6 separate regions of the Homo sapiens genome follow, and all the other regions are linked to region 4. Evidence: fine-mapped expression QTL. A gene starts in region 4. Each other region holds a variant in brackets. All regions are shown on one strand. Distances are between the middles of the regions.

Region 1 (5,076 bases), 100 kb before region 4:
TTAATGGGGACTCTAAAAATGGTTGCTCTGAACAATGTTAACTGTTTTCAAATGCTCGCAGATCACTTAGTGCTTTTCTGACTGTCCATTAAAGTCATGCCCAATGCCACAGCTACTTTCAAGCTGAAGGGTCCTTAAAATCTTGAAGTCCGAGGAAGCATGAAGCAGAGCTATTTAAATAAACTCTTCCTGTCAAACTTACAGATGGCTCTTTAGTTTGGAAATGATTAAATTCCCAAGAGTGTGTATTCAGCTTGGGCTGATTTGAAACAACCCTAGAACTTCATTCCCTGGTTGTCCTTTTTCTATTTTTTAAATTTTGGTTTTTGGAGTAAGATTTAATTACTAAGTAGGAAAGAAGTTAACTGGTGATCAAACAGAAGATTCCTAGGTATTAGGAACAGCTGACATCAGAGGAAGGAGCAATTGACTGGAATTAACTAGTATCCAACACAGGAAGATACAAAGGCACCCAAAGCATATGCATGAATCACTCATTAAAAAAGAAAGATTTTTTTTTTCTCAACAGCAATGAAATGCATTGGCAACCTCCTCTTGTAATTGCATAGTTTCCTGCTGTGCTTTAAAACTCTGCAGATTCTCTTATTTACCACACAGGGATACTTGAAATTTCATTTCATTTTTCTCCCTAAGATTATTGCCAGTGGGTTTAGTAAGGATGGATGACAACCTCACAAAGTGATTAGGACTGGGGCTTGAACCACTGCAACTAAAACCGGATAGTACCCAGAACTCTAACAACATACAGCCTCTCCAGCACTTAGTGTGCAACCCTCACTGCTAAGACCAGGGAAGTTCTTTCCACGAGTCCTTTCTCTTAATGCCTTAGGGGAATTCTCAACAAGGATCTGCCCTCCACTCTCAAGTGCCTGAGAGAGTTTGAGGGGAGACAGATAAAGTCCTGCTCAATAAGCATCACTGCTCACACTGCTGGTGTCTGTGTCAGGAGACCTAGAAAGACTTCATGCCTTGGTGTTCATATCTGAAGAGTTCTGGAAGACACCACCCCCAAAATTTGCCACTTTGGCATGAAGATTATTTCGAGTTGAAGGCAATCGAGAATCAACAGATGCAAGAAGAATTCTATGCCCTCCCCTTCTCTGCCTAAAAGCAGGAGATACATTTCCTTTTGGGAAGGGGGCATAAATTCTCCCCCTCTACTCTACCACGATGAAGACAGCAACATTTATCAGTGGAGACTGAGATAAAATTTGCATAAACACATCTTACTAAAATAACTCCTATTTTCCATTAGTTTCTCATATATGTGTGTGTGTGTGTGTGTGTGTGTGTGTGTGTGTGTGTGTATGTATCTCCTAGTCACTTTCCTACAACTTATCCGCCCTAGAAGCCCAAACCCTCTTTCTTTTCTCAAGTCACTTATCCACAACTTATCACCCATTGTGAAAATGGTGTATAAGCATCTGAATCTATTTCTTTGGTTTTTCATTTCTTTTCTGTAAGGCTTCTGTGCATGTAAAATTTAAAATATTAATGCCTTTTTTCCTGTTAATCTGTCTTTTGTCAGTTTAATTTGCAGGCCCCAGTTGCAACACCTTAAAGAGTAGATGAAAAGTTTTCTCCTTCCCTTACAAGCCTTTCTCACTGGTGTAGATGTCTCTGCTAGTCATGACATTGGCTTCAATCTACCTTTTTAGCCTCCTGCTACACCTCTCTCTTTCCAACTGTATCACCCAGCCATATTATAATATTCGTTGCTTGTAACAGAATATAAGCCTTTTCTAGCTGCATGTCTTGACATACAAAGTTCCTTTGCCCTAAAACAACCTCTGTCTGTTTTTTGACTGGAAATGACTTTTTCCTCTTTTTGGCCTAGTAGGCTAAACCCCTTTATAGCTCATGTCCCCATCACTGAATTCATCATTCTGTTTTTGCTGTACCTCCTTCTAGATTGTTGTGTGGATTTCCTTTGAAAAGCATCTGTTTTTCCCTGCAGAAAAACTAATAAATGCCTACTGAAAATTCATAAAATGCAGTAAAGATGATAGAAGAAAATTAAGTCTCCCTAAGACCATCATTAGGAAATAATTACCAATCATAGCCTTGCAGAGTTTCTTTTCCCATGCAAAGTACCTGTGAATATTTGTATGCATGTTTTTACTTTGAAAAATAAGGTCATATTACCTCTATGCCTGATAACTGGCTTTATAATGGAGTTTTATAGACGTTCTAGTGCCACTATTTTTTCTACATCATAATTTTTAGTGGCTGTGAATATTTAGGTATTGGATCTTACTCAACTGGATTAACATTATCAGCGGGCATTTAATACTGCTTATCTGCTAAGTTCTATATTAAGTTGTTAGGATATAAAGAGCAGTAAGAGTGTGCAAAACGCGAACCCATGACTACCGTACAGACAGGTATCATGCAGCATCAAGGAAAAGGTAAACAATTTAACAGAGAACTGGAGGTGAGGGGAGCTGATTTCTATGCTCAAGATGGCTATGGGGGATAAACAGTAGGAGCTTGTGAGTGGACACAAAGGAAAAGACTGTTCCAGGGACGAGGAGGAGCAGGAATTGCAGAGATAAGCAGGAAAAAATAAATGAATGAAATCATGGACACTAAACAACCTATTATGTTTCCCTCACCACTATTGACATTACTTGTCAAAAAAAATGTATTGCTCTCTAAAGAATATGAGCTCTGGTTGTTTTGAAGTTGAAATGATCAGTAGTCATAAAACCCACTCCAAATCAAACACTACCCATCGTCTTGGTGGCTTAGCTTTTTGAATCATGCTAAGTTCTCATCAACGTCACATGCTAATAGGCAAGACTGGTGACCCAAGACAAGCAGCTGAAAAGACAAAGACACAACCCAGAGTACTTCTACACAATGCCACCCCTCTATGTTTTGGAGGGTTCATCGTCCTAAACAATACTTCCTTTCTTTCCATAAAAATTCAGACACACAATAACCATAATTAAGTAACCTGCTTTCCCTCAACCCAATCAGCTCTGCTCTAATCACCATTTTCTTATTTTGAAAGAATATCATTATTTCACAGCTGCTTTATTTTTAATTAGAAGATGGATGTGATTTCACATCTGAGTTGGATATACTTCTGTTTAACATTAAGGGTGATGGTGAGGGGGTGTGATGATGGCGGTG[G/C]GCAGGGATGGAATGGAACATCAAATGCATTCACTGAAATTGTTGAACATTTCCCTCTGTGTGTGTGACAAACATAAACATCTGGTATTTATCGATGGCATGTAGGCTATTTTACAGAACTTTATCAAACTCCTTTTGAGTTCTAGTGGCCGCTTTCTTTTTCTTTTCCTTTTTTTTTTTTTTTTTTTTTTTGAGACAGAGTCTCAGTCTGTCCCCTGGCTAGAGTGCAATGGCGAGATCTCAGCTAACTGCAACCTCCACCTCCCAGGTTCAAGCAATTCTCCTGCCTCAGCCTTCAGAGTAGTTGGGATTGTAGGCCCCCGCTCTCACGCCCAGCTAATTTTTGTATTTTTTTTTTAGTAGAGATGGGGTTTCACCATGTTGGCCAGGCTGGTCTTGAACTCCTGACCTCAAGTGATCTGCCCGCCTTGGCCTCCCAAAATGCTGGGATTACAGGCATGAGCCACCGTGCCCAGCTGGTGACCACTTTCTAAGTTATAATACATAGCGCCGTTGGCACTATAATGATTAGAAATGTGACCCAACACAATACCCTGTTTCCAATATGGATATGAAATTCTAACACTGGTGGTGGAAAGTCTACCCACAACTTACTTTCACACTGTGCTCCACTCACAATGAGAAGATCTTGTTAGCAGATACAGAAGAGGAAACCCCAAGCCTTTCCTTCTGGGTGGGGAAAATTGTGTGAGTAGAGGAAAACAGTTTTCCTCACCACTTCTAGGGGTGAAGGGGCGATGTTTGCAGTTCCTGGGTGGCGAACTCCCACCTCCCCACGGCACTGGGTTCTACCATGCTCCCAACTTACTCTTTGTTGTAAGATATCTACAGGAACCATCCACATGCACCATATGGCCATGGTATTGTCTTAGTAATGACAGGAAACACATTCCCCAGACAAAGAGAAGCAAGGAGAAGCACACATTTTACCAGGAATCACTTGAGGACAAAGCAGCATGTGTAGTAAATCATGTAGCAAATCTTTGCAAACTGCTGGTTAAACACCAGCACGCAGCCTTCCAGCCATGAAATGAATATCACTGCTTTCTATAATAATACATAACCAACCAATATTGGTAATGTCATAACGTGGAAAGCCTCATTTCTAAAATGAAAATCTGTCTTACTCAATAAATTACTGCCCATTGAGCTAGCATTGGCAAGGGAGCGTTTACCAGCTTTTAACACTCCCAAGGCAGGTCAATACAATGGCCTGAAAAAATAGAGGACAAAGAGCTGAGGTCTGATTAAAAACAGGAAAATATTTTTTGAGGGGGAGACTGTCGGATTTTCTTTGGGGCATCTCTGATGACTCAAAGAGCTGTTTAATTCATCACTTGACACTACAAGCTAAAGAAAATATTTTTAAGCAATTGTCTCATTTCCTTAGATAAAACACATGTTTTTTACAGAGCCTGGGCCTGTGAACATCAATGCTATTCTAGGCTCTGTGGGCTTAACTCACAGTACCTGACCATTGTGCTCATTAACTTAGGATCCTGGACTTCTTACTGTTATGAATCTGAATGCAGTCGCTTTAGAGTTAGTGACATAGCTCCCTATCTCTTTCTGTGTTGTGTCCCTATGGTGGTATTACCTAGAAAAAATGCTGATGGCTAAGGCTAAAATTACCATTAATAACCGGAAATTCATAGTGCAACCTCTACGTGTTAGGCATTTTATGAAGGGTTAAATTTATGTACAGTGTCTCTTTCAATTCTCACAACAATCATACAAGGGACATTTTATGGACAAAGAAACAGAGGAACAAAGTGATATGTACCTTTCTCAGAGTCACATAACTTACCAGTGTTTGACCCAGGACTTATACCCCAGAGAAGACTGGTGGCCCGTGTATGAGCTGCTACACCTATGCTATTCCCCAATTCATATTTT
Region 2 (5,076 bases), 75 kb after region 4:
TGCCTGGAGGCTACAGATTATGGCAACTGGAGATTCATGGAGGTAGGAAAGTAGAAGCACAGTGTGAAGAGTAGGAACTGACCATCCATCCACCAGTGTCATCACTCCATCTGTGATAGCCCCCTTTCCCCAAAGTACCAGAGCTCCAAATGACCATGAGAAGGTCTGTTTCCAAACTTGGAACCCAGGTGCCCCGAAGAGGCAGCTGGAAAATTATTGCACCAGGAAGGGTGAGGATATCGAGGAGAGGAAGATTGAGCAAGTGTGGGCTGGAGCATTGAGAGAACAGAAGGAGGGAGTTAGGCTGATCCTTAAAAGACTCACAAAAGCAAAAGGACAGAAAAGAGAGAAAAAAATCCATCAAACAAGAAGAACCAGCAAAACAAAATTCCAAAACACATGGAGAAACCTACTGCTAAGAGAGGCAGCCAACAAAATAAACCATCAGGACAAGACATCACATGAATGAAGTCCGGACAGAGACCTACACTGAGGATGCTGAAAAGAGATAAATGAAAGAATACAGCTGTGAACAGCAACAATGAAGCAAAAGAAGGTAGAAACAAAACTAGAGTGGATAGATATGAGAAAAAAAACAAGTGCAAAATTTTGAAATTGAGAAATATAGTAATTGAAATAAAAATGAAATATTCAAAATACAGGATAAACTCTAGACTCAATCCTGTGGGAGAGCATATCAGAGAATGTGAAGCTATCACTAAGAAAATGCTCGGCAAGCAGTGAGAGATAGAAAGATGAAGATAGAGACAGGAGATGAGAGAGAGATTAAAAATATATGTGGTGGTTCATGTCTGCAACTTGGGAGGCTGAGGCAGGAGGACTGCTTGAGGCTGGGAACTAGAGACAAGCCTGGGCAACATAGTGAGACAGAAAATATAAAAATTAGCTGGGCATGGTGGTGTGCCTTAGTTCTACCTACTCAGGAGGCTGACATAGAAGGGTCACTTGAGCCCAAGTGTTCAAGGGTGCAGTGAGCTATGATTACACCGCTGCACTCTAGCTGGGACAACAGAGCAAGAACCTGTCTTTCTCTCTCTGTCTATCTATCTATCTATCTATCTATCTATCTATCTATCTATCTATCATCTATCTATCTATCTATCATCTATCTATCTATCTATCTATCTATCTATCTATCTATATGCAAAAGAGCAGTTAAGAGACATGGGAGATAGTTAAAGAGCACCAACATATATCTAATGAGAGCTCTAGGAGAAGAGAGAGGAGGAATGGGCAGGAAAAAGGAGTGACATCAATACTGTACCTAGATGGAATGTGGATTCTGTGTGCCTATAAAAAGAGATAAAAACAAATCCATATCTATTCACTTCATAGTAAACCTGCAGATATCAAAGATAAAGAGTACATTCAAAATCCCAGAACACAGAAAAGATAGATTATCCAGAACAGAATGGCTGCTAACCAAAAAGCTGAAGGATAGTAATGTGATTTTTTTAAAACCAGCCAAAGTATAATTCAAGAGTAAAATCAAAATAAAGACATTTAAAAACACATAAAAACTAAGAACCGTAGTAAAACAAATAATGCACTCTGGGGAAGAATAAATGCAATGAATAAGATAAAAGCAATTATAAAATGGAATTTGATTAAAGGATAGTAATTTTTTTTTTTTTTTTTTTTTTTTTTACCATAAAGTGACTTTAAAAAGTACAAAACAGAATTTAAACAAGAACTGTAAAATAAGAAGAAGGGGTCATTCTTCAGTGGGTTTTTAAACCATACTGACTGACACGTTTGTCATGGTCAAGAGGAGGATATAAGTATTGAAAGATAAAATATGTATTTTTTTTAAAAAAAATTCAGCGTTGTCACTAAAAGACTACAAGCACAACCTACAATTATCAAAGCCACAGAGAAAGAAAAACATACAAACAGAAATGTGGAAATATTTCATCAGAAGAAAAGGCAAAGGTGTAAAAAAAGTCAAAAAGGATGGTAAAAATTAGTCCAAATATGTGGTTGATCTTAATAAATGTAGCTAATTCAACTTATCTATTGAGAGAGAAAGAGAGATTATTAGATTGGATAGATTTGATAATAGAATACAAATCTAGGTATATGTTGCTTAAGAGACCACCTAAAGCTACACAGAAAGATTAAGGATGAAGAGAAGTAAAAAGATAAACCATGAATATATTCACCAAAAGAAACTTCGTTTGGTAATATTATCAGACAAATTAGAATTTAAGCAGAAGCATTAATAGAAACAAAAAAAGAACGTTGCATAATACTTAAAAGAGCAAAGGAATCAGAACAATCACACACTTGTATACCTCTGAGAAAGTAGCCTTGAAAGAGAAAACGCAAAGACTGATGGAAATAAAACTATACACCTTGGCATTCAGGAAGATTCATCTGCAGCCAGGCGTGGTGACTCATCCCTGTAATCCCAGCACTTGGGGAGGCCAAGGCCAGAATTTTGCTTGAGCTCAGGAGTTCAAGACCAGCCTGTGCAACACAGTGACACCCTGTCTCTACCAAAAATTCTTTTAAATTATCCAAGCTTGGTGTTGCACACCTGTAGTCCCAGCTACTCAGGAGGCTGATGCGAGAGGATCATTTAAGCCAAGGAGTTGGAGGCTTCAGTGAGCCATGATTGCACCACTGTACTCCAATCTGGGTGATGGAGTGAAATCCTGACTCTAAAAAAAAAAAAAAGAAGTAGTTTGCTTTTGGCAGAATGAATAAAATGGAGCTGTGATGTGTCCTTGAGCAAGACAGGATGTGTAAGAGCAGAATTTAGGGAGGGTTAATCTGATGACCTAAGCAATAAAGGCAGGAGTGAGGAAACGCTAGGTACAGAGATTCGCACTGGCAAGATCGGCGTGGTGATTTAAGAGTCGGTTAATAAGACCTTGATCTAGGGTGGCAAGAGATGAAGTGATCAAAGGGGAAGGGGAATCAAAACAACAGACGTGAACTGAATAACTGAATATCAAGGATAAGGAAGAGAGAGTAATCCCAACTGGAGAACGGTGGTACCGTGAGCAGAGAAGGGAATGATGGCTC[G/A]AAAGCAAGCTGGCTTTCGGGTTCATTTGACATACTTAGTTTTTGATTTACTGAGTTTTGGGTAACATCCATGAGATGACTGTTCTGAGATGGAACACAGGCAGCTGTTGGTGGGAGGAGAGGCAGAGAGCCAGTCTCTTGGTTGCCATGCTGCCTTCTCCTCATGTCTCTGGGGTGTCCTCTAATGCCCTGAGGAGGTAGATACTCTTTTTTTTAAAGTTCCAGGGTACATGTGTAGGATGTGCAGGTTTGTGACATAGGTAAATGTGTGCCATGGTGGTTTGCTGCACCTGTCAACCCATCACCTAGGTATTAAGCCCCTCACGCGTTAGCTATTTCTCTTAATACTCTCCCTCCCCCCACCCTCCCCTGACAGGTCCCAGTGTGTGTTATTCCCCTTCATGTGTTCACATTGCTCAGCTCCCATTTATAAGTGAGAACATGCGGTGTTTGGTTTTCTGTTCCTGCATTAGTGTGCTGAGGATAATGGCTTCCAGCTTCTTCCATGTCTCTGCAAAGGACATGATCTCATTTCTTTTTATGGCTGCATAGTTTCCATGGTGTATATGTACTACATTTTCTTTATCTGGTCTATCATTGATGGGCATTTGGTTTGATTCCATGTCTTTGTTATTGTGAATAGTGATGGAGGCAGACACTCATATTCACCTTCACTTAAAGAACTGGCAATGCTTGGGAGGCGGAGGCAGGCAGATCATCTGAGGTCAGGAGTTCGAGAGCAGCCTGGCCAACATGGTGAAACCCCGTGTCTACTAAAAATACAAAAATTAGCTGGACGTGGTGGAGGGTGCCTGTAATCCCAGCTACTTGGGAGGCTAAGGCAGGAGAACTGCTTAAACTCAGGAGGCAGAGGTTTCAGTGAGCGGAGATGGCGCCATTGCACTCTAGCCTGGGCGATAAGGGAGAAACTCCGCCTCAAAAAAAAAAAAAAAAAAAAAAGAAAAAAGAAAAAAAAAATAACTGGCAATGCAAAAATTTGTCAGGAAAGAAACTAGGGGAATTTCCTTAGTACATGGCCAGAAGATTCCAGCATCTGTGAGGGTGAAGGCAGGAAGGTGGTTAGAGCACTGGCCTGCCCATTCTCCTGAAGAAAGATGGTTCTCAGCTCACTGCTACTCTGCTCCCCCATTCTAAAGTAGTATTTACGGGATTTTATTTTTATTTTGTCCTGAATATTTTTGTCACTCATATTTACTACTTTTTAGTTTCTCTGCCTATTTTAGAAGTGAATGGTTCTGGATGGATGAGAAATATCATTCCCTCCAAAGTCCAGATATGATATTGAGGTTTTATACTTCTGCACAAGTTTCTGCACATCTGAGAGGTGCTTGGGCTGAACCTGGATGGCCACTCTCTGCAAGGAAGAGGAAAAGAGAGGGACAGCTCCTACAACAAGTGCAGACAGTCATGGTGGGTTGAGTAAGAGAAGGTTGCAGGAGAGTCACAGAGAGGTTGGGGCTTGTAAAGAATGTCATGAAAGAGTGCAGACACCAACAGAATGGGCGTTGCTGCTATTATCAGGATAAGCCAGTAAATGCCAGGAAAAAGATGTACCAGAGACTCCAGGAGGGTAAGTACTGCTTGAAGGAAAAAGGAGAACTAACAAGGATGGGAAAACATTTGATTTCAGAAGTTGAAGTCTCTGGTGTGAGTTGAATTAATCAGTTAATTCCTCTAAGGTTTCAGAGGGAGAAACTGGCTGATGGAGGGAAGAGCAGCTCAGTGAAGGATCAACGAGAAGGAAGAGCGCCCATCACAAGGCAGCTGAAAGCTGATTCATCATTAGGACGAGGTTCAAGGGAGAAGTCAGTGGCTGCCCACACTGGCGCATCCGTCATGGGAACTTTCTATGTCAAAACCCTGCCAATGAATCATGAACATTTTAGTTGTGATTCAGATTCCACAGCTGAGAGGGTATAGAGTAAGCTTTAGAAGTGGAAAAGTTTCTGACATATTCTGGATGGTAAGAGGAGGGTTAACTTGGCAGTAATACTGATAAGGAGG
Region 3 (5,076 bases), 590 kb after region 4:
TACAACCACTTTAGAAGTTGTATTTTAATGTTGCAGCAAGTAAAGCTAGAATATAAAGCCATATAGATCTTTGGGGACATTTTAGTTACTTTCCATTCTTTTTTTTTACATTTTACGACATGAGAAATAGATTCAGTTATTAGCATCAAGTGCTAAGGACCAAAATAGAAGATAAGTACCTTTACCCACCTTTATTTGGACTCACTGACATTACTGGATAGCAGTTTAGGGTTAATAATTGGTAAATTACATCATTAATCATGAGAAAAGCTCATTTATGGTTGAGAGGAGTCTCCATGTACGGAACACTAAATTTTTTTAGATGGAGTCTTGCTCTGTCACCCAGGCTGGAGTACAGTGGTGCAATCTCAGCTCAGTGCAGCCTCCACCTCCTGGGTTCAAGCAATTCTCCTGCCTCAGCCTCCTGAGTAGCGGGGATTACAGGTACCACCACCACACCCAGCTAATTTTTGTATTTTTTAGTAGAGATGGGGTTTCACCATGTTGCCCAGGCTGGCCTTGAATTCCCGACCTCAGGTGATCCGCCGGCCTTGGCATCCCAGGGTGCTGGGATTACAGGCATGAAACACTGCACCCAGCCCGGAACACCAAATTTTTTTAACACTGTATTCTCACGTGCACATGTCAATGAAAAAAATAATGAGTTAGCAATATACCACAGGACAGCCGAAGGACAGATTGTAAACAGTAACAGAGGCACAGGAATTTACAACCAGAGGCTATCACCTTATTACTAGTCATACCCATTGCTGCCTGCCATAGGATCTGCTTAAAATACTTTATTGCAAATTCCAAATTATAATTACCAATTATTTATTGCCTGGTTCAGGGATTATAGATTTTAAAAAACTTTGAATGATTAAATAATGCCTAGAAAACCTGTCTCAAAATTTTACACTCTATTATTTAAAAAAAAAAAAAGAAAAACACCTGAATTTATGAAGGGAGAAAACCCAGAAGATGTAGATGACTGTAGCTTCCAAGTCAAATCATAATTTGGTGTTATGTGCTATGTTAATTTCAGTTTTCCTACAGAAGAGTAAGGCTAATTGAAGGTTTATCTGACATTTCTTCTCTCAGTGCTGTGAATTCTATCCGTTGCCATTTTTCTCTGACAAATTGATGCACACCATTACTCTTGGAGCACACTTGGAGGCAGCTGCTTCAGCAGAAGTTACCTTTTGCTGAATTCCACAGATTGAACCAGCTATCCATTAGAGAAGACAGCTTTGGCCTGGAATTCAGTAGATGGGTGTCTAGTCTCAGCTTCTCCACCAGCTTGCTGTGTGACCTTGAAGAAGTCATCACCCCTCGGGACCAGATTTTTCCCATCTAATTTTAGAAGGTAGCAGGAGATGGTCTCTGGGGTACCCTCCAGCCTTAATCTGATGGTCTGTGGTTATAGGAGAGAAATGTAGCCATGGTGAGAATAGAGAAAAAAGATGAGTTGTCTGAAAGGAAACTGGTTCAAGCTAAAAATTCAGGCCAGCAGTGGGATCCAAAAAAATGGCAGGTAGCAGGATTTCCAGTGCCTGCTTTTTGGTTTCATAGTTCCTATCTCAGGTCTTGGAAAACCAACATCTCCAGGCAGTCGCTTTTCCATTTTGGCATCCTCTGACTCCAAGTCAGCCCTGAGACCAAACATTTGCTGCTAGTGCCCTGGTGAGGGACCCCCAGAGTCTGCACCTCCTCTTTCTTCCCATTTCCCTTTCTCTCTCATGTTGACATACCCATAGCATGAAAAATGAAAAGGCTAAATGCACAGAAGCACTAACTTCCATGTTCTCACTCATTCACAAAACCTAAACATTGAAACAATTGAACTCATGGAGGTAGAGAGTAGAATGATGGTTACCAGAGTCTGAGAAAGGTAAGGGGTACGGGGGGAGTGGAGATGGTTAATGGGTACTAAAATATAGTTAAGAGAATGAATAATATCCAGCATTTTATAACACAACAGGGTGACTGCAGCCAACAATAGTTTATTGTACACTTTAAAACAAGTAAAAGAGTATAACTGGAATATTTGTAACACAGATAAATGATAAACGCTTGAGGTGATGGATAGCCCGTTTACCCTGATGTGATTATTACACATTGTGTGCCTGTATCAAAATATCTCATGTACCCCATAAATATATGCACCTACTGTGTACTCATAATAAACTAAAAATTAAAAAGAATGAAGAGGTAGAGAAAAAGTAAAGAGAATTTATGAATATGTAGCAACAAAATAAGGAAGATGAAGGACAACCCACTTCACAAAGGAATCCTAAGCAGAGTTTACCAAAAGGATGACTTCAGATAGATATAAGATGCCCCACATCTAGCTAATGGATAATCTTGGAAAATATGGAAAGGAGAAGTAAGGGTTCCATAAGCAGACGGCTGGCTTGGCCATTCCCAGGAAGGATTGAATAAATCAAGAAATGGGGGTTAAAAAATGCTGAAACCAGGAAGAGACTATATTACCAACTCCCACGGGAAGAAGCCACAGTCCTGTGCTGGCATTATTCCAATCCGACGAGTTGGGGCATCAGAAAGCCATTCCAGAGGGAACACTCCCCAGGGTCAGATGACTGGGCTGGGCCGCATGACTTAACACGTCCTTCCTTGCTAATCTATTTTGGTGC[A/G]TGGGTGGAAGCCACAGCAGCTATGGCCCAAGGGCTCCAAGAACAGGAATCACATCGGTGAAATTACTCAAGTTGATATTAGTTGGACATTGGTTTAGGGGAATAGCATCATAAATTGCTAGTTTTGGCAAACGGTATAGTGGGATACAGTGTGTTTTCCTCGTGGACACCCAAGGTTTTCATCGCCATAAAAGCAAAAGCCACTTCTCAGTAAGCACATTTCATAACATGGAGGTCCTCATGGGATTTTCAGGTGGGTAAAGTGGTACGTGTTGGGAAGGGGAGCATTTTATATTCCATCCATCAAGCTAAACAGAAGAATGTAACAGAAATGGTTCTGACCTAGTTAGCATGAGGAGAATATTCCAACCAAGACCCCAGCTGCTTCCATAGGCCTCTCCAGTCCAGCTGGAGGGGGTGACAGACTGCAGTTGGAGCAGCCTGGTCCCCTCCATGGCAAACAGCTCCTGGGAGTGTCCTGCTAAGAAGAGGTAGGACACTGGTAGGAATCAAAGAACAATGATGCTTACTGGAGCCCCTCCAAATGTATTCCTGTTTCTCCCAGAGGACACTACCCTGTCACCCAGGAGAGTCACTTCTTTTAGAGGAGAAGACCTCCCACTGTAATGTAAAACAGATTTGCAAGTTTTCTGCTCCAAAACTGCAGCACCAAAGAAAATAGCGACCAAAGTTAAACTATGCAGGCAGCAATGCAGTTTCAGGTCACCCACTCAGATCAATCCATTTCATTGGACTCCTGAAAACGGATTCCTCATTCCTGAAATGAATTTTTCTATTGCTGCTGTGAAGCAAGTCAGTTCCTAGCTAACAAGAATTCAAGATTCATTTTCTCTGCAGTTTCTAAGCAAGCTCTACCTGATGGAGTTTTGAAATTCCAACAACCTTTTCTACAAGAATAGGGTGTCCTCCAGGATAAAACTTGACCTCCTTCTTAAACAGCTTAGATCCTAATCAAAGATTATAAGATTATATAGAGGCTATAAAAGAATAAAGTTCCCTCCCTAAAAATCCAAACTTGTGGCCTGGTAACAACATTTTAAAAAATCAGTGGCTATTTAAAGTTAGTCCTGGGTTCATTAGAGTTTCAGTACCATACCTATTACTGAGCTGATGACAGGTGGGGATTTTACAGAAATCAGTGGATCCAATTAGCACCAGGGGTCCATAAGTCAGGCACTTCCAGGCTACAAATTATTGGTGACATTTCTAAGCATAGATTGACAGTTGAATCCAGGACAGCTTTCTCTATACCTTTGAAGCATTATTAGGGAGAAAATACCCTACCCAAGTTTTCTAATCTACTGTATTAAAAAGAGAGCTTCCTAAGAATTTTATTATCACACCAGTCCATATTGCTCAGGTGACTGGTACATGCTTACTTTAATGAACCCAAAACAGGCTTGCTAGTGCTGTTTACATTTTATACTGTTAGGAACAGACATCGGCAGGCAACTAGATTGTGTAAAATTCATTATCGTGATAAGATTATAAAGTTGTTGGTTAGTAATTGAGTAGATTCTCCTGTCCCTGTAAAATTTCAGAACCCTGTCTTGCAATAAAGGAGTTAGAGTCCACTTCTGTTTTAAACTTGTCATTCTCAAACTGTTCCCGTAAAACAATAGTGCTCTATAAGCCGTGTCAAAATATCCTGCAAATAAAATCCAAGGATATCAGACACAAACAAGTCCTGGGAAGAATATTGAGTTAATGACCGTCAAGCTGGTTTTCCAACATATATTTTTCTTACAACCTCGGTGTTTGCTCCCACGTGTCTGTTAGAATACCACTGGCAGATGACAAAATAGAAGAACAAATAGCAAATGATCAGATGAAAACTCAGTAACTGAGGATCCTGCTGCTTCAACAGTCTGTTTCTTTTCCCATATATCTGTGTGTTCATGGCTGTGGTTTTATATCATAAATATATAGCATGCTCCCATTAAGTTTTGCAATTTTTCAGAAGAGGAGGGGTGTCTCGCACACAGCTCAGTTGACTCTAAAAATATGTGTCTACCTCAAGAGAGGAAAAATAGCACATGCATATTCTAAACACTGCTCTGGGACTGTGGCTTTTAACTCATTGCCTCTCAGTAGCAAGCGAAGGTCAGTTGAGAAAAACAAGGCTGAACGATATGTAGTTCATCCCTTTCTCAATCATCTAAAGCAGAAGTAAATTTTATCTGTAAAGACCAGATAGTAAAAACTTTAGCCTTTGTGGGCCACGTGGTTTCTGCCTCACCTGTTCAACTCTGCTGTTGTAGCAAAAATGCAGGCATAGACATTAAAATAAAGGAATGTGATGTATGCCAACAAAACTTTACTTACAGACAACAGAAATTTGAATTTTATATAATTCTCACACATCATGAAATATTATTCTTTTTTTCAACCACTAATTTAA
Region 4 (5,076 bases):
GCACTGGTTCTAGTCACTCGACAGAGTCACTTCAGAAGACATTTAGGTGGACTTGGTACCACACCAGAGCTCTTTAATCTGTGACTTCTGAGAAAGTGACAGTGTAATAAGATAATGTGGACTGCTAGACTCCCTGGCTCTGTTCAATCTCTCTAGCAGTTGATTAAGAAAGAGCAGTTTCTAATGACTCTGGACCATTAGTCCTAAATAAGGTTAATGAATTAATTTAGCAGACACTGGTTACTCAGAGGAGGTGGACATGGCTTTGAGAGGTCTGCTGAGTTACAGAGGCATTTTCTGGCTCTGGTCACTTCAAGCATAGCGACATGGCTTTTGCTGGTAAAGCTCAACAACTAAAGCCAGATTTTCAGCATTCCCCAGATTTCTGCTAAGAAAACTAAGAAGTGTGTGTGTGTGTGTGTGTACTGCATATATATTTGTGTAGTTCACAACCTAAAGTCTGATAGCTCTTTGCATTGAGCTTCAAATCTATCTTGTGAACACCCCCACTATGGATTTAGTCTCAAGAGTTGTGGAGGACAGGGTTACTATAATTTCTAGTCCAACCATTTGAGCTCTTTCAGTTGGACGAGAATGCTATTTCATTCCCTGCCAGAGTATAGAAAGATGCTACCAGCTCAGGTTCATTAATAAATTGAATTCTACATTCATAATTTTTTGTGTCTTGCTTTCCTGCCAGATTATAGAAAAATGCCATCAACTTGGGCTCATTAATAAGCTGAATTCCATGTTCATAATTTTTTTTTTTGCATGTGTTTTGCTTTAAGCATCTCTTAAAATACTGCTTGGTAGCTGCTGAGGGAAATCCATTGCTAAAATCACAAAACCTTGAAAAAGCATATTAGAGAGATTAACTTCCATCATAAAGATGTGATTTAAATTCCTGTTGGTATGAGGCCCTCCACTTGCGGTCTCTTATTAAAACAATATACCACAGTAAGTAGTGGATGTTCTTTTCTTCTAATTACTGTGATTGAAATCTAAGCCAGACAAAAGTAAATATTTGATCATTAGTTAATAACAATTGCTGACGACTTACTGTAAAGATAATTGCATACCCTTGCCTGCACTTACTTTACAGTGTGAAGTCAAACATGCCTACAACCAGATCCCATTTTAAAACACATTATTTAGGTTACATGGTACTGTTTAGACCCCAGTATAGTTTTTCATTTACTTAACAGTGAGTGATTTTAAAAGCTAAGTGGAAGCTGCAACTAGCTTAGGGATTTTCAGATATCCTGGTGCCTTACACTGTATATGTCAGATTCCTGTATTGATACTATGTAACTTTCAGTCATACTCCAGACAGATTACGGAAGGTGTACAAAGGCGGGGGAGGGAGTTTCATCAACCCACAAACCGATATCTCTGGCCGTCACCCACCAGAGGAAACGGCTTAGGGGAGCAGCAAAGGAACCAGGAAGTAAGATCTCCTGGTAAAGTGTTCATTAACTTTCAACAGCCATCAGATTTTTGAAAGGGAGTCTCTTCTAATTGCCTTTGGGAGGAAACATTATTAAGATAATTGGCATGCTGATCTGGGAAGGTAGACAGCTCTGTCTTGTAACAGAGGTAAGGAAAAGCCCCACAGCCCAAGGATCAACGTCAGGAGGGAGCCCAAAGACCTGAAATCCTCCTGCTCTAAACCGCCTGATCTCATTTCTTCTTCTCTCCTCCCAGATAAAAGTTTCCTTCGCCCGGGAGTCGGTTGTTCCCGGCTGATCCCGGGAAGCCCCGCCTGAGCCCCGGTCCGGGGCGGGCAGCTGGGAGCCGGGGCGCCGCTGTCACCCGCGCCTCTGCCTGTCACTTACCGTTGCGAAAAGCGCCGGCCGGGGCGAGGACGAGGGCGAGCACGGCGCAGAGGAGCGGCAGCCCCCTCTCCATTCTCCCTTCTCCGGGTCCGCAGGCAGACGCGGGAGAACGAGGACGTGGGGGGAAATGCAGCAAAGAGGAGAATCTAAGCGATCCGAAGAGCCCCAACTCCGCCTAGAGCTGTACAATCCTCAGCCCGTCTTGGAGAAAAGAAAGCAGCGAGGCAATGCCTGGATCCGAGAGGAACGCTTCTCTTTTTGTGTCTCAAGTCGCCTGCATCCTGTCATTTAGCTCCGGCTTCCTCTCCCTTTTCCCACACTTGTTCCTCTTCCAGGAGCCACTGCCCGGGCCATGTCTCAAAAAAAAAAAAAAAAAAAAAAAAGGCCGGGGGGGGGCTGTGGGTGGGAGGGGGAGGAGGGAGGTAGGGCAACACACACCAAAGCCAATTTCCAGGAAGAAAAAAAAAAAATCCGGCTTGTTTCTGGACCCGTTGGAGCCGCGGAGCTGGCGCCCAGGGGAGGTCCGGGTGTCTGCGGGAAGGAGGGGAACGAGCAATGAAAAGATGAGCGGGAGACAGAGGAGTTTCACCAACTGCACCCCCGCCTCCCCTCCTGCGGCCTCCCCCCACTCCGGAGCCCTTCCCTCGCTTCCTCCCGCCCCTCTCCCCGCTTGGGCTCGCCTGTAATTGCCTGACAGGAGACTGGGAGGAACAACTTTCCCTCCGAGTGCTCTCCCCGTCCGTCTGTCTGTCTTTCCCAGAGACCCTGCAGGGATCTCCGCGGGAAGGAAGGCGCTGGGAGTCTGCGCCCCGGTCGCGTGGGTGCGGGCGTCGGAGGAAGGGGCGCGGAGGTCAGTGCCAGCCGCAGGGTCTGGCCAGCCCACCTCGCGTGCTCGCTCTGCACCCCTAGAGGGAGAGCTGGGCAGCTCCTGCAGGCGCAGATCCCGCCGCCGCGCAGTGCGGAGCGCCCGGGAGGTGGCGGCTGCTTCTCGCAACTTCAAATCCCGGGGCCCGCGCCCTCGGCGGCGAGGAACGCAGGGTCACCCCCTGCCACTCCTCATCGCGCCATCCTGAGACCTGTGGCGGGGAGCAGCGGGGCACCCCTGGACGCCCCTGCCCAGAGCTGGAGGGCGAGGAGGGGAAAGCCGGGCTGGAGTGGGAGCCGCACCGCGAAGCCGGGCGAGGGGCAGCAGTGTCGCTGTGGTGTGAAGCGAAGACAGACCGCCTGGGCGGGCGAGGCCGGGCTGCAGCCCCACGCGGCCTCCCTGGCCCGCATCAGGGCGCGCGGCTGGGTGCCCTCTGCGCGCCGCGGAGGCTTCATTGTTTCCCGAGATTTGGTGCCCGTTCCTCTGGGGCAGAGGGAACACCGGAGGGTGGGAGGTGCTGCGCCTTCCAAGCAGGGGGGCAATCGCCGCCCGACCCCGCCCAACCTTGTCTGGGAGCCCAGGTGCTAGGGAGGGGTGTGGAAATCAGGGGTCGGGCGGCCCCCGTTTCTCTGTGCATCCCGAGGGAGGGAAAGAGTGGCGGGGGAGGGGTGCTCTTCGCTGCGCCCTCTCAGTGTCCGCTCCCGGCCACAGACAACGTGCACGCCGGCCCTGGAGCTCCTGCCACCCCCACTTCCCACAGCGGCTCGTGCCCCCAGCCCGCTGGATGCCCCCCAGGCCCGTCCCCGAGGGTTTTCCGAGAAGTGCTGCAGGAAGCGTTTGTAGATGCGAAAAGCAAGGACATTTCTGGGAAGAAACAGGTTGCGGTCACCGATCAGGCCCCGGAGAAGGGTCAGTGCCCACGGGGCACCTCCCAGGGAGTTTGTGGGTAAGGTGAAAAGGTCACACGCCTCCTGGGGATTGGCGTCTACACACACAGCCAAAGTACAGCCTGATTCCTACCTGGCACAAATAGCTGGCCAAAGGGAGGTAGGAATGCTGGCAAGGAGACTCTGGTCAAAGGTTTTGGCGGAAGAAAAAGGGGCGGGCAGGGAGAAAGCCCAAGGCGCGCGGGCCCCAGGCCAGGACTGCGCGCTCGCGACTCGGGCTGGGAGCAGTGACGTGCGCCCCTCGGGGTGCAGGCCGTTCCCGGGCCAGTGGGAGGTGCACCCACGGAGCCCGCACTCGCCACTCTCTTGCCCCGGGTCAAGCCTGTCTTCTCCTCCCCACGCGCCTCGGGATTCCCAGTCGCCAAGTTGGAAACTCGGCCCCCCCGAGCGCCTCTTTCCTCTGCCAGTTTCCTCCTTCTTCTCAGCTGTCGGACCCCTGGGAGGCGCGGGGTGGGAAGTGGGCACCGAAGGGCTGGGAGTTAAATGCCTAAGTTGAGCGGAAGGAGCACTGTCGAAGCCATGGGCAGCCCTGCGCCCGGGCAGGCGGGCAGGCGGGAGGCGAGGCGGGGGCGCCGACCGCGCCCAGCGCAGACCCCGGGGGAGTGAGCGCCGCAGAGGCAGCCTGGGCTCTCGGCTACTACCCGCGCGCGGTCGCCGCCTCCCCAGGTGCAGCCCCGCCAGTCCCAGCCCCCGGCTGCGCCGGGCGAGCGGCATCATCAGATTTAGGGTGACCCGGAGCGACCTCGGTCCAGGCTCGGAGGGAGAGGCGCCTCTCAGGACCTGGCAGGTTGACAGGGAAGGGGAACCGGGAGGGAGCGGCGGCCGGGGCGGCCTGGAGTCTCGGAGGCCCGCCTGCGTCCTGGGGGGACCCGACCTCCGCGCTCGCTCCGGAGCGCCCGTTTGGATAGCTCTGAGCCTCGGCGGGGTGAGCGAGGGGGCACACGAGGGAGACTTGAGCTGTGTTGTTTTTAGAAAACTGCCGCCAATCTCTCTTCCCCTTTCCCTGCTGAGTGTGCATTTTCCAGCCTAGACCCGCCAGGCCAGCAAATAAAGCCACCGGATCGTGCACTCCGGAGCGACTGCCCCCACCCCGACCTTGTCTTTCCCGAAGGGAATGGCTCCTCCGGCGCCTCAACGCACAGAAAACGCCTGCCTCCAGCTGAGCGCTTTTGCCAGCTTTCTCCAACCAGTGAATAAGGGATGCACTATGGACTCAGAAGGAAATGTCATATTTAAGTTCTGCCTCTGATTTCTCTGCTCTTAGCTGATCTAAGGTTTTTCTAGACTCCTTAGTTTCCACTCACAGTGCTGGGTAATGGAGCCCTACCGCACTGATTGAGAATTGCCGGCCAGTGGGTTGGTACAGAGCAAATTGTCCTTGCTAACAACCTTTTTCCTTTGCTGTTGGATTCCACTAAGTGGTGAGAGG
Region 5 (5,076 bases), 540 kb after region 4:
CTTTGAAACTGTATTCCCGGCTGGGCACAGTGGCTCATGCCTGTAATCCTAGCACTTTGGGAGGCTGAGGCGGGCAGATCTCCTGAGGTCAGGAGTTTGAGACCAGCCTGGCCAACATAGAAAAACTCTGTCTCTACTAAAAATACAAAAATTAGCTGGGCGTGATGGCAGGCATCCGTAATGCCAGCTGCTGGGAGGCTGAGGCAGGAGAATCGCTTGAACCCGGGAGGCGGAGGTTGCAGTGAGCCAAGATCTGGCCATTGCATTCCAGTCTGGGCAACAAGTGCGAGACTCTGTCTCTCAAAACAAACAAAATGAACAAACAACAACAACAACAACAAACTATATTCCCATCAGTTCTGTTCCTAAGTTCTTTAACTTTTGTTATTAAATACTTTTATTGCATCTATGAGAAAAATGCTTTTATGAAATACTGATATACTAAAGCATATAATTTCAAGCCATCTAACCATTGCATAAACATGACATGTGAAGTAGCAAACTGTATTTATTAACAACATAGTCTCTGGAGTCAACTTCCTAGCTTTGTATCCCTAGCTTTAATGATACCTATTAGATATGTAATCTTGAGCAAGTTTTTTAACTTGTCAGTGTCTGAGGTTTTATAAGTTATCTGCCTTATAACTTTTTTCTTCTTCTCCATTCTTTTTTATACTTTATTTTTTTAATTCACACATAAAAATCATACATCTTTATGAGATACATAGTGATATTTTGATGCATATATGCATAGTGATCAGATCAGGGTAATTAGCATATCCATCATCTCAAACAATCAGCATTTCTTCAGTGAGGAAAATAAGGCACATACCTCATACAATAATTATGTGAGAATTAAAAGCAATAATTTATGTAAAGTTATTAAAAGAATGCCTAATGCATAGTATAGTGCTAGACAGTCTGTTTCTATCAAATCAATATTTGTACATAATTTAAAAAATAAAATAGTACTGAGTGGGAGGAAGGGGAAGAGGGGTTCTAACCAATCCATAAATGGAATTTCCAGCCTTTAGAGATAGCTTTTTGGCCAGTTCTTGAGCCTACCCTGGGTCCAGAGTCTGTGAAATACTAAAAGGCCTTTTCATCGTCATTTCTTCCTGAAGGCACATAGATTTCCAATGTCTAGTCCCCCCTGTCTTGCATCTTCTGAAACTTCTCGTTTACCGTGTGTCCTCTCTTATCCTTTGATCTTCAACTTTTTGAAATCATTTACCATCAGCTTTGAAGCAATTGGTATGGTGCAAGGCCGATGGTCTATGTTCAGTGCACCACAGTGTTTAATTATGTTAAATATTTTACTATTTAATATAATAATAATGTTCATATTGCTAAATATTTTAATTATGTTAATTAAATAATGTTAAGTATTTTACTATATGCCGTCATAATAATGTTAAATATTTTACTATTGTTGTTATTAACACACAATAACAGTATCAGCTGATATGACTATCATAATCATCATTGAGCTTGTCTGTTCACTATGAATCTAAAAAGTTCAAACAAGGGGCCAGGCGCGGTGGCTCAAGCCTGTAATCCCAGCACTTTGGGAGTCCGAGACGGGCAGATTACCTGAGGTCAGGAGTTTGAGACCAGCCTGGCCAACATGGCAAAATCCTGTCTCTACTAAAAATACAAAAAATTAGCCGGGCCTGGTGGCACGCACCTGTAGTCTCAGCTACTCTGGAGGCTGAGGCAGGAGAATCACTTGAACCCAGGAGGCAGAGGTTGCAGTGAGCTGAGATCGTGCCACAGCATTCCAGCCTTGGAGACACAGTGAGACTCCATATCAAAAAAAAAGAAAAAAGAAAAAAGAAAATTCAAACAAGGAAGCATTGGTGAAGAGTCGGAGCCTGGGTATGTTCTGTATATCTCAGCCCGGCTCTGAATAGTTCAGCAGTAGAAAATCCTTTCTCCTCCCTCTCAGTGACACCCTGATAGTGGCTTTGCTGAAACTTTCTGGGTTTCTCTCCCCCTGTAACTTTTTAATAGGCCTCCTGACTGACCTTGACCTCCCAGAGACCCTTGGTTCCCTGCGAGTCAGTCTCTCACAAACCCATCTTAGAATTCCCGCATTTCCTTCACTTCTCTCTGTTTCCAATTGCCCCTGGTTGGCTTTCTCCTTGTCGGGTCATCAGCAGGTCTCATTAATTCGGCTCACAGATCACTGACCCAGCAAGGCATAATTGAGCGTCAGATTAAGTCCTTTAATTGTGGCATGGGGTCCTGAGCTCCTCAGAGAAAAGGATTTTGTGTGGGGGTGAAATAACAAGGGAAATAAGACCAAACGATTGCATCCCAGGATGTTTCCAACAATTCCACAAGCAGGTAGTGAAGGGAAAATTAGTATATCATAAAGAGAGGGGTGAGGCTCCATTGTGTTCTTTGACCTGGGGTTGTAGAAAAGTTGGCAGCAAGGCTGACTGGCGATCAGCAGAGACCTCA[C/T]ATCTGCTCTGGATGGTGCACATGGAGAGAAGTAAAGATGACCTTTCTCCCCTTCTTAACTTGGAGTTGTGCAATGGAATGAGGCAAGAGGCTTTGTTTGCCTAGAATGTGAATTATTGGCCATCTTCCCTCGGGCCTTTAGATACAAGGACTCAAATTTGTGAAGCAAGCTTGAGTTTCCGTTCCTGTCTCTTCTCGCCTTTCTGAGTACTGTGTAATCATCGTGCAGAGATAATTGAGATTCTGGTTGCAACTGAAATCTCTGCTCTTCCGGAAGTTTCCCTTGACTTTGGGATTCTCCAGTTAATTTTTGTAAGTATATTCTATGGAGATATAAATGCCCTAAAAAAGACTGCCATGCAATGGAAACCTCTGGTTTTACAAAGGAGATTCCAGCTCTATTGAGAAAGAGCAGAGAACAAATGTGGAAAAAATACAAAGACACAACCCCACAACAGCAAGAGTGAAGAGTTTGGAAGTGATACATGCAACAGGGCAATTGTTTGGCAACTTCCTTCCTACCAAGAGCCAAAACTGCAAGACCAAGCTAGGAAGAGTACACAGCGAATCACGCGGCCTGTGAGTACTATTAAATAAGGGAATAATTTAGGTGAAGATGCTGTCCTGGGCTGAAAACTCCTGCATTGTAATTGGTGGATAGAAAAGAAACATTGGGAAAATCTCAAGTGAGAAATCCTTGGTGGATTTAACTCTCCATTCCCACCATCCCTTAGCAAACCTCCCAGCAAGTTGAGGAGTCGTGCCAGTGGCATACAATGTTTTGGTTTAATAGACGATTGTTTATCTTGGCTGCTCAAATTCCACATGTCATCTCCTACCTTCTCATGGGTTGAATGATGCTGAATTCATGGAAGAGATAAGAAAACTTGCCCTTTGGAATAAAATAAAGAAAATACATTTTGATTTATCAGATACTTCATAGAATAAATGAAGGTATACCTATTCTTTAAATATCCCTCCACCATCCATTATTTTTCCCACTTTTACTTTCCCAGGAATAGATATTAGCAAGACTGAACAATGATAATTTACACCAGCCTCAGACCATTCAGGACATGTCCTATTTTTTTAAATTAATTTTACATTTTTTATAAAGAATTTTTTAGCAGCTTTAGGTTCACAGCAAAATTGTACAGAGCTATAAAGATTTCCCACATACTCCCCAACTCCATATGCATAACTTTCTGTATTATCAACATTCCCCATGAGAGTGGTCTGAGACCTTTGTTAAACTAAAGCAGCCTCTCTGTCCAATCACAACACTGAGTGAATTATAATACCCACCATCATTCTCCAGCTTTAAATAAAGTAAGAAAAATAACAGAGTATCTTATCATAGAAGTGACTTTTAAGTAATCATTTCGTCAAGATTCTTTTGGTAAATACAGGATTTAATTTTCCTACAGTCACTTCTGTAGGAAAATTAAAGTAGTTTATGGAAAAGAAAATGTGAGAGGTTTATTAAATTAGGGAAAACCATGGCCAATAGAGCAAAAAAGTGACGGGGTGAGGATGGTATTTAACCAACTAGCCCTACTGAAAAATACTAAGATGGCATACAGTTCTCTATCTTTCCATAAGTGGTGATTTTAAAATAATATTTGGAAGCTTGCACCTCACTCCCAAAGATGCAGCTGCTGTGCTGTTTTTCTTGGCATGTTTAAGGATCCTCCATGGGTACTGAAGAAACCTGAGCTTCGAAACTCAGCAACTCTAGAACTAGACTGCTGAATGGTTCTCTGGAGAGTTCAAATATTTGAGTGAAAAGATATGTCGAAAACTCACTTCTTGTTTGGATGCAAGGAAATATGGACACGGGACCAGGTGTGAAAACATGACGGAGCTTCTGTAAATGTGTTGGGTATCGCTGGTCTCACGGGAAGATGGGAAATGATCCTTCCCAAGCTGTAGAATCTTGGCCGAAAAACACAGCTTCCCGATTTGTACTAAGGAGACGTGTCCACCTCAGCTTTGGTGACCCGGTTTTCTTGGGGCTTTCAATTAGGAGCACATTCCTTTTCTCCCTTTACTGTTTTCAAGTTTAGTTCAGGTCAATAAGCACCTGAAGCTTTTTGGACAGCAAATAATAAGCTTAATCAGCCTCCTGATGAGTGAAAATGCTCTCTGAGTCTTACAGCACTTGAGCTCTTAGCATTTTCCCATTCAAGATAAGCCTAGATAATATCTAGGATCAAATGTGGTTGATGAGGTTTGAAGTGCCCAAGTGCTTACCCCTTTTTTTTTTTAAAGAGAACTTAGCCCTATTCCACCCATAAAAGTGGACTATTAAATGCATGGTTTTCTCGCACCAAATCTTCCCTTTTTAAAAAAATTTTCTTTGAAGCCCAAATTTAAATGTGTCAAGAAATTTCTGCAGCAAAGTTAGTTGCACATGGGATTCGAAGAGGCCAAGGAAGAGCTTGTTTCAAACTTGGAATATGGCTGAAATACACAATAGTCATGTCTGTAGAAGTTACTAAAGTCTGTTGAATTTGACGAGGGCTGGTAGAAATTGAAATAGTGGTTTTATGGAAATCAATAATCCATAAGCAATTCATGGTGGCTTTTTCAGAAGCATGTCGATGACTC
Region 6 (5,076 bases), 330 kb after region 4:
TCTGGGAGGCAGAGGTTGCAGTGAGCCAAGATCACACCACTGTACTCCAGCCTGGGCAACAAGAGTGAAACTCCATCTCAAAAACACAAAACAAAACAAAACAACACTGGGTGACTTTGTGGGAGTACGTGGCCTTTTCTAATTTTACCAGAAACCTATTTTCTGTATAGTTTTGTAAACACTCTAGAATCATTTGGGGGTGGGTGGGGGGTCCATCCTGAGTCAGAGATTCAGTCTCAATATGGACTGTGTTTCTGAATACCTTTGAAAACAATAATCTCTCCTATACACAAAAATCACCCACAGTGCAGGGCTTCCAAAAACTGACATTGTAAGAGTAGCCCTTTTCTGGTGAAGAGAAAGAAGCACATGTGATCTATGGTAACATGGGCTGTGAGTCACCTGGTGATGTATTAACATCTGGCAGAACAATATTATTTCTAATAATGACTAGCTAAGCATTTCTCAACTCAACTTCATAGGCCCATGAGCCAGCTGCTTCCCTGAGAGATTAACACCACCACAAGCTTAAGTGGTCCCATCCAAAACTAGTTCCAGAGATACACCTTAGGGATGCAAGGTGGCAGTTTCTTAAATTTTAAAATAAAGCACCAGTTTCCCGTAGTTGAGTTCTTTTATGTTTCCTTGTTACTGAATGCTCCTTTGAAACCAAAGGTATTGATATATTCTACCCTGCAGGGAAATCAATAAAAATTTTAATCACAAAATTAAATAAAAACCAAAGCTACTGACATTACATGGTAACACTCAGTGAAGCAACAACTTCAAGTTTTATGGTTCTTCTACAACTGGCCTTATTATTTGTAGAAAAATCAATATCGGTTTTAGAGTAATTTGGGATGCATCTTGTGATCACAGAAAACAAGTTCCTGGTTGACTTTACTAAACAAGTAAGAATGAGGCATTAAAATGTGTTCCTCCCTCCCCAACCCAGAGTGATTATTCCTGGGCAGCAGAAAAAAACACAAGTAGGGTGGCCCTAAATAACATCTCCAGCTCTGTCTCAAAGCACATCATTGTCCAAAGCCCTGGGCCACCTTCTACAAAGACAGTCTGTTGCAGTGGTTGATGGGTTGAAGGACTTTCCTAGAATGATTAAAAGCTTGGGATAGTACATGAGTTAAAATGTCCCCAGAAAAGCAGCACACGCTTCATGGAACATATAGTAATAGCACCCATTTATCACATGACCTTAGTGATGTCTGGTAACAAAAGACCCTATTTCACATTTGAGGAGGAAAAAATAAAAACGCTTTTTCAGGTCATTTTCAAGTCACAGGACTATAGGCCTGGATGTAATGTTAGGAGATATTAAGTCCAATAATGTCCAATCTCTTTGTAATGCAGGGGGCCTTCGAGAGGATTTCTGAAGGATGCAATTCCCCTTAACTGTCCTACATCCTTTCTCATCATTCAGTGGCAATGCATGCCCAGAAATATGTGCATAGAGACAAACTTATATCTTCAGGAACCACGAGCTTTCCAGTGCTAATGAATTCTTAGGCTGAAAGCTTGCTCTTGTCTCCTATAATAGTGGTAACCCACAGTGTGGAAAGTGAAACCATTGGCAACCTGAACCGTGATCCTGATTCCCAGACAGTGATGTGATAACACACTTTCAATGAACTTGAAGAGAACTTTGAATTGCTGCAAGGGTTTATTGGAGTCTAACTCAATATACTTTGGTCCCCTGTGCTCTTGTGTTAGATCTTCAAAATGGCTTTTTTCCAAGACTTGAGAGTGCTCACTCAGTAAAGAAAGCAGAACCAGAGGATGGGGCCTGCTTAATGTGTGGGAGGAGCCAGCTGCTTTAGGTGTGGAGGTTTTGAAAGTCAGGAAATGAAACATAAAGACTTTGCAAGGGTGAGGACAACAGTAAACCCAGCCAAGATTAGTCCTCATGGGCCTAAAGTTATCAACCTTGAATCAAAAGAGCAGGGCTTCAAATCCAGCTATTAGCATAAGAACTATTCCCAAAGCAAGAGTTCAAACCACTGGATGACCCCACTCTCAGGAAGCAGTAGCGGTCTTCGCACAAGATGACAGTCAGTGAGGCATTTAAGGTCTTTCCGTCTCTTATGGGAGCTACAGGTCAGTGAATCACCTCCAGGGACT[A/G]AGATGGGAAGTTGGAAAAGAGAGGGTGTGGGATACTTCTGTCTTTGCCAGTAAGAGCAAAGGAATCAAGGGGTTGATTAGATACTTGCAGGTATCTATATCAGCACCTTCGACATTGGCACTTCTGTTCTCATGTTCTCTTTCTGAGCAAGTTCACTGATTAAACAATCAAGGGCTTCTTCCAGATAAGTTTCTAAAGGCAGTCTATTCCAGAAGATTCTTCATGCTTCATCGACACTGGCTTTAACATCTCCACACTTGCAGTCCACATCTTCATCGTTTTTTTTTTTTTTTTTTGAGAAGGATAAAGAAGGGAAGTCAACTTGCTATGTTGCCCAGGCTGGACTTGAACTCCTGGGCTCAAGCGACTCTCCAGCCTCAGACTCCAGAGTAACTGGAATTACAGACACATGCCACACACCCAGCTTCACATCTCCTTCATCTTTTATGATCAGGTGTCCTCCAGCAAGCCTTCACAGTCAGCTTCCTCCCTGCTCCCCAGTCCACGCTCCCCAGCTTAAGCCTCCTGTTCATACAATAAATGGAAACTAACAAACAACAATGAAGACAAAAATTTTCATCCATATCTCTATCAATGAGCTTAACAAATTGTATTATAAAATGTGCACCATATAAAATTGCCTATGTTGACCATTTCTGACAAATTTCATATAATCCAAACAGATAATTCTCTGTTTCTGTGTCTACATCTTCCACTAGATCATGAGGAAGAACTGTGTTTTGTCTTCTGATTATACAATCAGATTTTAATGAATGTCTTGGCACATCACTGGTTATCAATCAATGACCAATGAATGAATGAATGAATGAGTTAAGAGCCTGGGCTTCAGAACTGGGCCACCTTCTTGGGGAAGCCTGTTGAGGCTGAGTGCTTGACAATAAGGAAAAGGTGTGACTTAGAAGCAACCTCTCCGTCAGACAGGACGATAAACAATACACATTTCTCTGGATTATTTATTTCCTCAATAAAAACATGGCCACACTGACAGATAAACACACTATTTTATGCCCCAATTGAATGATTTTTCTCTCAGGTTAGCAAACCCTCCAGCACCTCACAGGATGGGGGCCAGGCCTTGAGTCTTGTTCTTTCATCTGGTTTTTCCATGTGTTCCTTTGACAATAAAAGCATTTTGGCTGAAGACACTGGCTTTAAAGATTTCTGTATAGCATCACACAGGGCAAAATCTGGTTTCTGGTTAGATGTGGACACACGTGCAGTGCCACGTGAATCCCCTAAGCATTTACCATATTGAACTCACCATGGTGATGTGTTTCTTGCCACATCTGATTCAGTGACCCATGTCTACTTTGATATTTGTAATGAAGCTGCCTTAATCACTAGCTTGCAGAATTTCTGAGGAGTCTTGCAGAAATGTCTTTGAGCCAAGATATTTTCTTCACAATTATGTTAAGACTTTTCCAGAATCAGATGAAGAGATGCTTTTAACTGAACATATGATAATTTCTAGTGCAAAATTTCCACCTTATCATGAACAAAATGATAAAACCAAAAAATTAAGGCCAACAATCTTTAGGGAAAAGATGGAGAAGGATAAAGAAGAGAAGTCTACTACAAAACATTCACAGATTATTTTGGCTAAAAATGATGTTCCATCCAAAATATATCTATTGGCTGGGCATGGTAGCTTATGCCTGAAATTCCTCCCAAAAACTTTGGGAGGCCAAGGCAGGAGGATTGCTTGAGGCCAGGAGTTCAAGAACAGCCTGGACAACATAGCAAGACCCTACCTCTATTAATTTTTTTTTTTTAATTAGCCAGGTATGGTGACCTGTGCCTGTAGTCTCAGCTACTGAAGAGGCTGAAGTGGGAGGATCACTTGAGCCCAGGAGCTCAAGGTTGCAGTGAGCCATGATTGCACCACTGCACTCCAGCCTGGGTGACAGAGCAACACCCTATCTCTAAAAAATAAAAATATATCTATTGACCTTAACAACTCTTCAGTGAGTCTCGGAGGTAAAATGAGTGCACTTGTTTTCCTTCTGGTTGTCACCATTTTTAAGTTTCTTTTCAGTCGGGGTGCTGAGGAAGGTTAAAAATCCAGCAACTTTGGAAAACTAAAAGTTACTGACTTCCATGTTGAATTTCATTCCTAAGTCCATGGGACAATTGTTAAATGACTGGACATCTTGACATAATCAGCAATAGGATCGATTCAAAGTTTGAGATTCAGACACTGCCCACAGGAAGGGCCAGAGAGCATGGGTAAGATGTGGAAAGCTTGTGCTTGAGTGTTCCTGCTGAGGCTCAGAGGCATCACCATTTCAGATCATTTCAGCATTCATAGTGCTTTGGCTCACAATGCCAAAGAGAAAAATAATTTTAGAGATAAAACTCCATATGTTAGTATAAGCAGATTTTACACCCAACCAGTTGATTTGCACTTGACATTCTCATCTCCAGCACCTTCCCGTTGGGAATCAAATATCAGCTCAGCTGTTCATCAGTACTCAGAGCTATAGGTGGATTAAGTCATAAACTATTAAGCCCACTTTAAAGTTCAAGCGGACGGTGAAAAGCAGAGTTCTGCTTAGGGACAAGGGAGTTTTGTTTCTCCCTGCCCCTCTGGGCTTGCATGATTCAGAGGGGATCAAGAATAACAGGTGGTGAGATCTGCCATAATGCGTAGTTTAAGTCTAATCACGTTTATATTTATGTTTGGATTTAGACATATCTAACTCCTGGTTTCTCAGGCTTTATCAGCCTGGGATCGCCCAGGGCTTGGGTGATGATCAGTGGTATTTAGTGCTAAGGCCTCACCCTGCTTTGTTACTAAATTGTAAGTCCCCCCACTGAGAGGATCCAGGGGCCAGGCTGCTTTTGTTCTCCTGGGCTGTTGCTTCCATTGGTGCTTTCTTTTTTCTTTTTTTTTTTTTTTTTTTTGAGACAAAGTGTCA

Which allele goes with the higher level. Positions count from the first base shown, and alleles are read on the strand shown. Sizes are in standard deviations (SD) of each study's normalised expression. Not every link is listed here.
For the expression in monocytes of the gene that starts at base 2,193 in region 4, T is the high allele of the variant in region 5 and C is the other (moderate effect, 0.55 SD a copy in Fairfax 2014).

The links. PIP is the estimated chance that this variant, and not a neighbour inherited with it, causes the effect.
Region 1: its variant is the best candidate, but not a certain one, in a credible set for the expression of NRP1 in lung (TOPMed, PIP 0.84).
Region 2: its variant is the best candidate, but not a certain one, in a credible set for the expression of NRP1 in whole blood (TOPMed, PIP 0.73).
Region 3: its variant is the best candidate, but not a certain one, in a credible set for the expression of NRP1 in nasal epithelium (TOPMed, PIP 0.70).
Region 5: its variant is the best candidate, but not a certain one, in a credible set for the expression of NRP1 in monocytes (Fairfax 2014, PIP 0.86).
Region 6: its variant is the best candidate, but not a certain one, in a credible set for the expression of NRP1 in whole blood (INTERVAL, PIP 0.88).

What each region holds. Positions count from the first base shown.
Region 1 is chr10:33,229,311-33,234,386 of GRCh38, forward strand. The region is part of intron 6 of NRP1 (neuropilin 1); the gene reads right to left. Among named protein-coding and RNA genes, the nearest start is that of NRP1, 100 kb to the right of the region's middle. The variant G/C (reference allele first, on the strand shown) is at 3,160.
Region 2 is chr10:33,407,882-33,412,957 of GRCh38, forward strand. No RefSeq gene overlaps it. Among named protein-coding and RNA genes, the nearest start is that of NRP1, 76 kb to the left of the region's middle. The variant G/A (reference allele first, on the strand shown) is at 3,052.
Region 3 is chr10:33,924,934-33,930,009 of GRCh38, forward strand. No RefSeq gene overlaps it. Among named protein-coding and RNA genes, the nearest start is that of LINC02629, 23 kb to the left of the region's middle. The variant A/G (reference allele first, on the strand shown) is at 2,655.
Region 4 is chr10:33,332,475-33,337,550 of GRCh38, forward strand. It overlaps NRP1 (neuropilin 1), which reads right to left and starts at 2,193. Exons shown (of 17, transcript NM_003873.7): 1 at 1,836-2,193. The coding sequence starts at 1,908.
Region 5 is chr10:33,874,223-33,879,298 of GRCh38, forward strand. No RefSeq gene overlaps it. Among named protein-coding and RNA genes, the nearest start is that of LINC02629, 27 kb to the right of the region's middle. RefSeq lists an enhancer at 2,884-4,083. The variant C/T (reference allele first, on the strand shown) is at 2,467.
Region 6 is chr10:33,665,282-33,670,357 of GRCh38, forward strand. No RefSeq gene overlaps it. Among named protein-coding and RNA genes, the nearest start is that of LINC02628, 67 kb to the left of the region's middle. The variant A/G (reference allele first, on the strand shown) is at 2,137.